Regions from separate parts of the Homo sapiens genome. Here region 1 is linked to region 2. The links come from fine-mapping of genetic effects on gene expression. A gene starts in region 2. The other region holds a variant in brackets. All regions are shown on one strand. Distances are between the middles of the regions. Region 1 has its middle 65 kb from the start of CLRN3. Region 2 holds the start of FOXI2 (forkhead box I2).

The links. PIP is the estimated chance that this variant, and not a neighbour inherited with it, causes the effect.
Region 1: its variant is the best candidate, but not a certain one, in a credible set for the expression of FOXI2 in subcutaneous fat (GTEx, PIP 0.60).

The regions. Positions count from the first base shown.
Region 1 is chr10:127,825,315-127,829,691 of GRCh38, reverse strand. No RefSeq gene overlaps it. Among named protein-coding and RNA genes, the nearest start is that of CLRN3, 65 kb to the left of the region's middle. The variant T/C (reference allele first, on the strand shown) is at 2,361.
Region 2 is chr10:127,734,947-127,739,323 of GRCh38, reverse strand. It overlaps FOXI2 (forkhead box I2), which reads right to left and starts at 2,139. Exons shown (of 2, transcript NM_207426.3): 1 at 1,540-2,139; 2 at 1-804. The coding sequence starts at 2,050. The coding sequence ends at 359.

The DNA.
Region 1 (4,377 bases), 90 kb before region 2:
TGGAAGAAGCTGGAGTCAGAGCCAGGCTTGGCTCTCCCAGGCCTGTGGTTCAAGCTCTTACTAATGTAAAAGTTGATCACACAAATTGGGTCATTCTTGCCATACCCAACTAAAACAGAGTCCAGAGGCCAGGAGGATAAAGCCCTCAGGGCACATGACATTGCTCCGAGGATTGAATTCTCTGCCAGCCTGGCTGCTGAAACTGCTTGCTGCCACCTGAAACCAGTTTTATCTAACAGCTACTGAAACAACCTACTGCAACTTTAAGACTAGTTGTATCCACCACCATCACTCACCAATCGGAGCTTGCCAGCTCCCCAAAACTTTACTAGTGCTAATCTAATGAACTTTCTTGCAGAACAATATATAAAATTTCTCTAAATTCTTTAACCTTCTTTTTGTTCTTTGGACATAACAAAGACCACCTGGTCTGTATGCCCTGAATTGCAATTCTTGCCTCCTGAAGAAAAGTTTTTAAATTTAGAGATTCTGTCTCTATCTTTTATTCAACACTGAGGAATATAGGGAGAGCCCAGTCCCTGAAGCCGGTGTGTTCTGGTCTCGCTGAAGGGGGATGGTGGGTAAATGCATTTTAAAAGGCCTTGACCAAGAGTGATGTGAGGTCCTGGCCCAGCATTCTTTCCTGGGCCTTTGTAATTCTACTTTCAGAGGATGTCTGCAAAGACCCTTACCATCACCTCCCATGAGAGGCTCCTGAGAGCAGCCCTTGGAGGAGACACAATGGGGATTTCCATTATTCCCATTTTACAGACAAGAAAACAGAGGCATTAGGAGGCCACCTAACTCAGCTCAAAGTTGACCTCCTCAAGGAAGTCCAGCTTGACCATTCTTAATTAGAATAGGTGTCCTCATTGCAAGCGGTTTCGAAAGCTGGGTCACTGTAGAATTCACGGCAGAGGCAGTTCACTGGATGAGGCTGCTTTCTGTCAGTGCTGTGAGATGAGCCCTCATGTTGCTGTGCACGGCTGTGCCCCCGCACCTAGCTCAGGTGGGCTGATAGAATTAAGTGTGGCAGGGCGCAGTAGTTCACACCTGTAATCCCAGTGTTTTGAGAGGCCGAGGCAGGCAGATCACCTGAGGTCAGGAGTTCGAGAGCAGCCTAGCCAACATGGTGAAACCCATCTCTACTAAAAATATGAAAATTAACCAGGTATGGTGGCCGGCGCCCGTAATCCCAGCTACTCGGGAGGCTGAGGCAGGAACCCAGGAGACGGAGATTGCAGTGAGCCGAGACTGAACCATTGCACTCCAGCGTGGGTAACAAGAGCGAAACTCCGTCTCAAAAAAATAAAGAACAAAAGAAAGACAAATGAAAGAAAGAGAAAGAAAGAAAGGCAGACAGAAAGAAAGAAGAGAAGACAAGAGAAGAGAAGAGAAAAGAAGAGAAAAGAAAAGAAATTAAGTGAATGAATGAATGATCCATCCCAGATAGGGTCAGACATCAGACTTCTGTGTGGAAGAGTGGAAACAAAGCAGCTGGGAGGCTGGCCTAGCTTGCTTTGAGTCCTGGCTCTACTACTTTTTAAGCGCTGTGGCTTGGACTATGTTACTTCTCTGAGCTTTGGTATCCACCTCTGTAAGGTGAGGGTTCCAACAGCAACCTCTGGGACATTTTGAGGATGAATAAGAGAGAGCAAGGACGCAGTGACCGGGCTGCTTCCCACACTCCAGCAGGGGAGCCCCCACACTGGGCCCTACTCCCTCTGGATTCCTGGGTGCTGTTCTTTCAGGACTTTTCTCTCAAACACCTGGGCACACAAATCAAGTCAAGGTATGTGTGGGTGAGTAAAGCAGGCCTTGGGTCTGTCCAGCAGGTGTGAGGATTTTTTCAGCTGCCACCCAGGCATGACAAGCCAAGGAGGGACTGTAGCCAGCCCTGTCTGGCCCCTGCATCCCAGAGCCTATGCATACATCCTCACTTTGGACAGGCTCCACGGCTGAACCTGGCCAAGCTCTTCAAGAAAGGTGGCCACCAGTGGGGGGCTCAAGCACTTCCTCTAGACCCACAGAGCCTTGGACCTCTCTGACTGGCACCTAGGATGTCAGTCTGTTGTACTGACAAACTCTGGGCAGAGTTTTCAGTGGCCGGCAACAATTGTGATAAAGGCCTGCCACATGCAGACACCCGTCTCTCAGGATAGGGCCTCGGGTCTGGGAGCACCACTCCTTCCATCCCTCCTGAATCTGCAGAAAACTCCCTCCTTCCTCCATGGGGCCAGCAAGCAACAGTCTCCCCTGGTTCCCTCTACCCTCAGCCTCTCTGGGTCTCAGTTTCCTCATCTCAGGCTAGTACTCTCTGGGCCAATGAAACATCCTCTTCCAGGTCACTTGAGGACTTT[T/C]GTTCCTGGACTGTGCCTTAAAGGGTCCCTGAGAACACTCAAAATAGTAACAAGGCCAAGGTTTCCTGACACTTACTCTGAACCATGAGCACTAAAGGACACACCCATGCCTGGACACCCACAGCAACCAGAGGGGAGGCAGACCAGGGCTCACCCACCTCTGCTTGGATTGCCAGCCCTGGAAGGGCCTTAGGAATCTTGGGATCAGCACTGTCCCACGGGACTTCCAGCCTTGATGGAAATGTTCTGTTACCTGAACCAGCCAGTATGGGAGTTGCTGGTGACTCGTGGCTATTGAGCCCTTGAAAAGTGGCTAGTTGACCAAAGAATGGAATTTTCACTTTTACTTAATTTTAATTAATTCAAACACAATTTAAATAGCTACCTGTGGCTAGTGACTATCATATTGGACTCTGTAGGCCTTGGGGATCCTAGCTTTTGGTTGTACACCTGCAGAAACTGAGACACGGTGGGGGAAATAAATTCCTTAAGACCTCCCAGGAGTCAATAAGAATTGGGTTTCCTCTGTCTGGCAGCTGTGTTCTTCTCATGACATAGCAAATGGCTGACAAAAGGCAGATATCTGCCTTGCTGAGCCACAAAGACAGGTTCCAAATAAGGGAATGTCTTGGTTGTTTCGGGGGGGGCTTTTAGCTGTGGCTGGAGAACACAGACTCAAGGCCTCTGGACTTTTTGAGAAGCAGAGGCCAGTGGAAGGCTGAGGTCTGGTAGTGTGGAGCCCCCACTGCAGCCTGCTCATGAGGGCCAGGCCTCCCTCTGGGACCTGCAGCACTGTGACAAATACTTCTTTCCGGCTGACTTTGCTCAGACACACGAATGAATACTCAGCATGGGAATCGCCCTCTCTAACATGAAGTGAGAGCCTTGGAAAGCCCTGTAAGCAACATGGCTGCAGGCTCTTGTTCCTTCACATATGCACACAAGCAATGCTTCGAGACGGCACGGTGCTTCGCGGAGCACGCAGCCAGCAGGAGGCTAGGACAGCAGAGGCAAACCTATTTTCTCCAGGCAGTCTGGAAACCAGAGTTGCATGTTAAGTATTATGTGTAAATGAAATAGGAATCAGGGAGAGGAAAATACCAATTTGGGCTGAATTGGCAAAATGTATATAATTTACAGAATTATGCAAAAATGAAAGGCTTCCATTTCCCTTCCATCAAGGCACTTCCTGTGAGAAAAATCAAATCCCTTCACCCTGCTCTGCATGTGTGGTGTTATGTGCTGGGGAAACTGTGTGGGTTTTTCCGCAGAGCTCTGAGCAGTTTTTCCAAGGAAGTCCGTGAACCCTCTAAGGGCCAACCTGAGTGCCACAGAAGTAATGAGCCTCTATTGCCAGGAAGTCGCCTTCCTCCCTGGCTCTTCTCGGGGGCTCGCCCGGCTGGCAGCCCTCTCAGCCTGCTCCCTCCCAGAAGGCCTAACAGTAAAGCACTCTCTTCTGGGCTGGCTCCCGCTAAGGTGCTAGATCAGGATGGAGGAAGATTTGTTTTACCTAGCTTTGAATCAAAACTCCTGCTCACACTCTCCAAAATGGAGAAAATACAAACTTGTGAAAGCCAGAGGCCTCCCTAAGGCCAACAATGAGCACCGTGTGATCACTGCTTCGTTTGTCGTGATGGCACAAACACCAAACTCTGCCAAAATAGCTAAAGAGGTTTATTCTGAGCCATGTGAATGACCATGGCCCAGGAAAACAGAGTCTCAAGAGGCCCTGAGAAGGTGCTCCCGAAGCCGTCAGGTTCTACTTTGGTTTTATACATTTCAGGGAGACAGCAATTGTGGGTAAAATCAATACATGGAAGGTATACATTGGTTTGCCCAGAAAAGATGGGACATCTCAAAATGGGGACTTAAAGGTCATAGGTGGGTTTAGGGATTCTTTATTTTATTTTAAAATATTTATTGTTTATTATGTTTATTTTTGAGACAGGGTCTCACTCTGTCACCTGAGCTAGAGTACAGTGGCATGATCATAGCTCACTGCAGCTTCAATCTCCTG
Region 2 (4,377 bases):
TCTTTGGAGTCAGCCAGCCTCCTTGGAAAACGCTGGAGCTGAGGGCCGACCCGCCGCCCCTTCAAGGCAAATCCCTCGAGAGCACAGGTTCTAGACGCCCAGGGCGGCTGGACTTAGAGGCAGAGCAGGGAGGTTCCGAAGGTCGCCTGGGTGAGGGGTGCACAGCAGAAGGGCCACCCACCCCAAAGCCCAAGAGCCGCTCAGCCCAGCTCCCTGCTGGCCGAGCCGCCCCCGGCTCTGCGCTTCCTCCCAGGGCACCAAGGCCTTCAACGCCAACACGTGGGGCTGTCACCAGGGGAAACCGGAGGCCTGAGCTCAGCACCTCTGGACCCGCACCCGGCTAGCCTCCAGCCTCCCTTCAAACTTCGGTCCCTTCCCGGCTGTAGAGGAGGTGACTGAGGCGGAAGCCGGCGGCCGCGGTCTGGTGGCCAGGGGCGAAGCCAGGGGAGGGGTTAAGGGTCTGGGGAGCGTGGGTGGCGACTGTCGGTGGCCGCCTCCCGAAAGAAAAGTCGCCCGCCAGGCCCCCGGGGAAGGTGCCAAGGCCGCCAGCCAGAGCGCTCATAGCAGAAGCGAAACCGGAGAAGCAGGTGGCGGCCTCGGGTGCGGATGGAGAGGGCGAGGCCTGCAGGTCCAGGCAAGCCGCGCTCGGGGGCTCCAGCGCTGGCGCCTCGGCCCCTCCCACGCTCCTGGCTCCCGAGCGCACGGCCGCGCTGGCTTCAGCTCTCCTCTTCCTCTTCCTTCGGAAGTTCCCGTTGTCAAACATCTTCTCGCAGTTGGGGTCCAGGGTCCAGTAATTGCCTTTACCTGCAGAAGAAGAAACAGCCCAGTTCAGAAGGTTCGAGCTTTGACGGGCCGTGGTGTGAGCCAGCGAGGAGGTCAGCTTCAGAAAGATCCCCTGCTGGCCCTTACAGAGGGTCTGAGTCCTCGCCCCCATTCCACCCTTGACGGGCACTCTGTACCCGATGGGCCTCCACAGCAGGACTGGGAAGAAAGTGACAATCCAGAAAGGAGGAGGAAGGGAGCCCTGGGAAAGGCCGAGCCCCGTTAAGGTGAAGGAAGGCCTGCGAGATGCTAATGGTGGGACTCCGCCAGCCGCTCTGCCAAGGACAGCGCAGACCACGCCAGGCCCCCAGGTAGGCTCCAGAGCTTTCCAAACGGGCATCCTATTTGTTTTGCCCATCCTTGGGGTAGGCGCTGTCTTCCCCATTTTACCAGGTAGGGCACTGAGGCCCAGGGAAGTTGAGTCACTCCCAAGGTCACCCAGCTTGCTGGCTCTCCCGCTTCTTCCTCCGAAGGAGCGCACAGAGATTGAGAGCCCCGGGACCGCCGCACTGTAAACGCGGGCCTGTGGTGGGCTCAGCCGCTGTCTGAGAACCTGTCCATGCCCAAGCACTTCTTCCCCTTCTCCCTCCTCCCCGGGTATCCCCAACCGCGCAGGGAGAAATTAGGTTGTCTAAGGTGCTCCCACCCCCGGAGTGCCCGCGGCCCGGCGGGAAGATGGGGAGTCCTGGACGGAGCGAGCCGGCGCGCCGCTGTTACCTGGGTCGTCCTCGTCGCGGGGCACCTTCTTGAAGCAGTCGTTGAGCGACAGGTTGTGGCGGATGGAGTTCTGCCAGCCCGCCTTGCTGCGCTTGTAGAAAGGGAAGTTACCAGCCACGTACTGGTAGATCTGGCTGAGCGTCAGCTTCCGCAGCGGCGCGCTCTGGATGGCCATGGCGATGAGCGCCGAGTAGGAGTAGGGCGGCCGCACCAGCCTCAGCAGCTCCTGCTGGCCGGAGAGGCTCAGCCAGGCGAGGTCGGCGCCCGCCAGGCCGCCCGGGGCGCCGAGGAGCGGGCCGGGAGCCCCGTAGCTCGGGGCCGCGTAGGGCGGCGCAGGCCCGGGACCCGAAGCGTAGGACTTGGGGCTGAGCGCTGGCGCGTTCACCCACAGGAGGGGGCCCCCGCCCACCGCGCCCAGATCCCCTGGCTCATAGCCCGGGGGGTGCGCGGTGGCCTGGGCCTGGCCGGGCGGGGCCGAGGAGGGGCCCAGGTCGTCGCAGTAGGTGGCCATGTCCAGCCGCGCCCGGGCCTGGGCCAGCGGTGCCGCACCGAAACTCACTGGCGACCCATCCAGCTTGGCCGCCAGCAGCGCCCGGGTGCGACCAGCCCGGCCCAGCCCTCCGCCCTTTAAACACCGTCGGGGCCAGAGCCCATGGAGAGTGACGGTGGCGAGCCCCTCCCCTGGCAGCCCTGGAGGAGCGAAATCCTTGTCCTCGCCCTGGTGTCAGTTTTCCGCCCCGCCCAGGCCTGACACGTCCTGGACCGGACGCCCCTCTGATTCCCCCTTCCTCCTTTGTGCGATCCGTCCCGAGTCCACAGTCGCTCGCGGTCTTGGTTGCAGGGACCCTAAGTCCGTAGCCTCGTCTGGCTTCACGGGCCCCGCAGCCCCGACTGCCCTGGACCGTACCACGACTCCTCAAGGCCCCCAGGGCTGTGGCTTGGGAGCCCCGTCCAATGCGCGGCCCCTTTGCTCGGCTCGGGACATCTCGCCCCAAAGAAACTCGCCTCGCCGGGGCCCCTGGGTTACCCGGGACTCGGGGCTAGGGATAGAGGGCGACTACACTGCGCAAGAGATCGCAATGAAGTCCGTAGATCTCCAGGCTGGAGCCGCAGAGCGAGGTGGCGAGGTGGAGAACGCGGGGCTGGGCCTGGACAGCGGCCCTGGGGTCGTCTGGAGTCCTCGCTCCCTCAACCCGGAAGGCAGCGGACTGACATCTGCGCCGAAGTCGCGCGTACCCCACGGAGGGTCGGGACCCTGGAAATTTCGAACGCCCCAGCAGTTCAGGGCAGTCATCGCTTTTCCCAAGCCGGGGAGTCCGGGGCCCCGCCAGGTTTCTCCGCGCTGTGACCTCGGGCGCGCAGAGCGGAGAGCGCCAAGCTCTCTGCTGGGTGTCGGAGGACGCGCCGAAAACAGGGACGTCTCTGCAGTGCGTCCGACACCAGCTCTCCAGTCCTGCTGCCGCCCGGGGTTGCTGCAGCCCGGGTTATCCCGGCCCCCCAAGCTGCCCGGCTTTCGGCCTCCCCTGCTCCCCGCGCTGTGGGGTGGCGGAGGATGGACCCAGGCTGACGCTGGGCTGGGTACCTGGAAAGAGGGCCCGCCTCCCGGACTCCGAGTCGGGCACCTGTGCGAAAGAGGCGAAAATTCAGGCCTGGTGCTCAAGGCTCAGAGATGAGGAGACCTCCCCATCCCCCCAGATTCCTGCCGGCGGTGTTGGCGCTGACCTCCTGGAAGCTGGCCTCGCCCTGGGTATTCCCCAGCGTTACGCGGGCCTGTGGATCTAATTTTAATTCATTTGTAAAACAAAAGGACCAACCCTTCCCGACTTTTGGCGGTGGAGGAGGCTTGTAGGTTGAGGCCAGCGGTTCGATCGAGGAAAGAGTTTGGGTTTGGGGATTAAAGGGCCCATTTGAGTCAGCGACTTACTGGTGGTGCAGCCCCTCGGCCTCCCAGATCGTAGTTCCAAATTTTATGTAAAACAACTAATTTATGGAACAATTTAACAAATGGCAGAAAGAAGTGAGAGTCCCTCTGTTGGGACGTTGGCCTCTCGCCTTAGAAGTGAAGCCCCTTCAGAAGTGGTGGGTGAACCGAAGGCATTTCCCAAGCAGTCAAGAGAAAAGAAATACCCCAAAATGGTTCTTTGAGGTCGGCTTTTCGGCTGGACTCTGCCCCCTTTTCCTTCCCCCTTTCCCAAAGATTTCTGATTTTTGTCAAAGGAATGCTAGTTGTGGGGGTCCCAGGTGCCTTTTACGAAGCCGCCCTCCCCTTCCATCCCCGTCGTTGCAGGGGCGGTTGCGGGGTCAACGGGAAGTACTCGGGGTGGGACACGCCTCTTCTTGCTGAGTCTCAGGTGAACACAGTCTATTGCTTCCACCCAAAAGAGCAGCCAGTGCCACCTGCCACTCAGCTTAGCGATTTCCAGTGCCCCCCTCAGGGGAAACCATGCTGCTGTCCGTAGGTGTGACCAGCTTTTTGGTGACTACCTCTTGAAGAAAGTGTCTTTCCCTCAGCACATGTGTAGCAAACAGGACTTGGATCCTCTCCTTATGGTGCAAACCCATATCACCGCCTATAGACACCCACTTTCCTCCCATAACACCCTTCCGGAGCTTGCCAGAGGGTCTGGGATGACTCCACACCTTCAGGAATTTTGAAACGGCTGCTGATTAGGACTCAGTTTTTGAGTCCGTGCTTGATGAGGATGTACAGAGGCTGCACAGCTCTGCCTTGACCCAAATCATCCCAGAGAGAGTGCGAAGGTGGGAGCTGCAGCCGGACCCGCAGGGCCACCGGCATGGCAGGTTCTGCAAGAGCCCGCCTGGCCGTCCCTGCTTTCT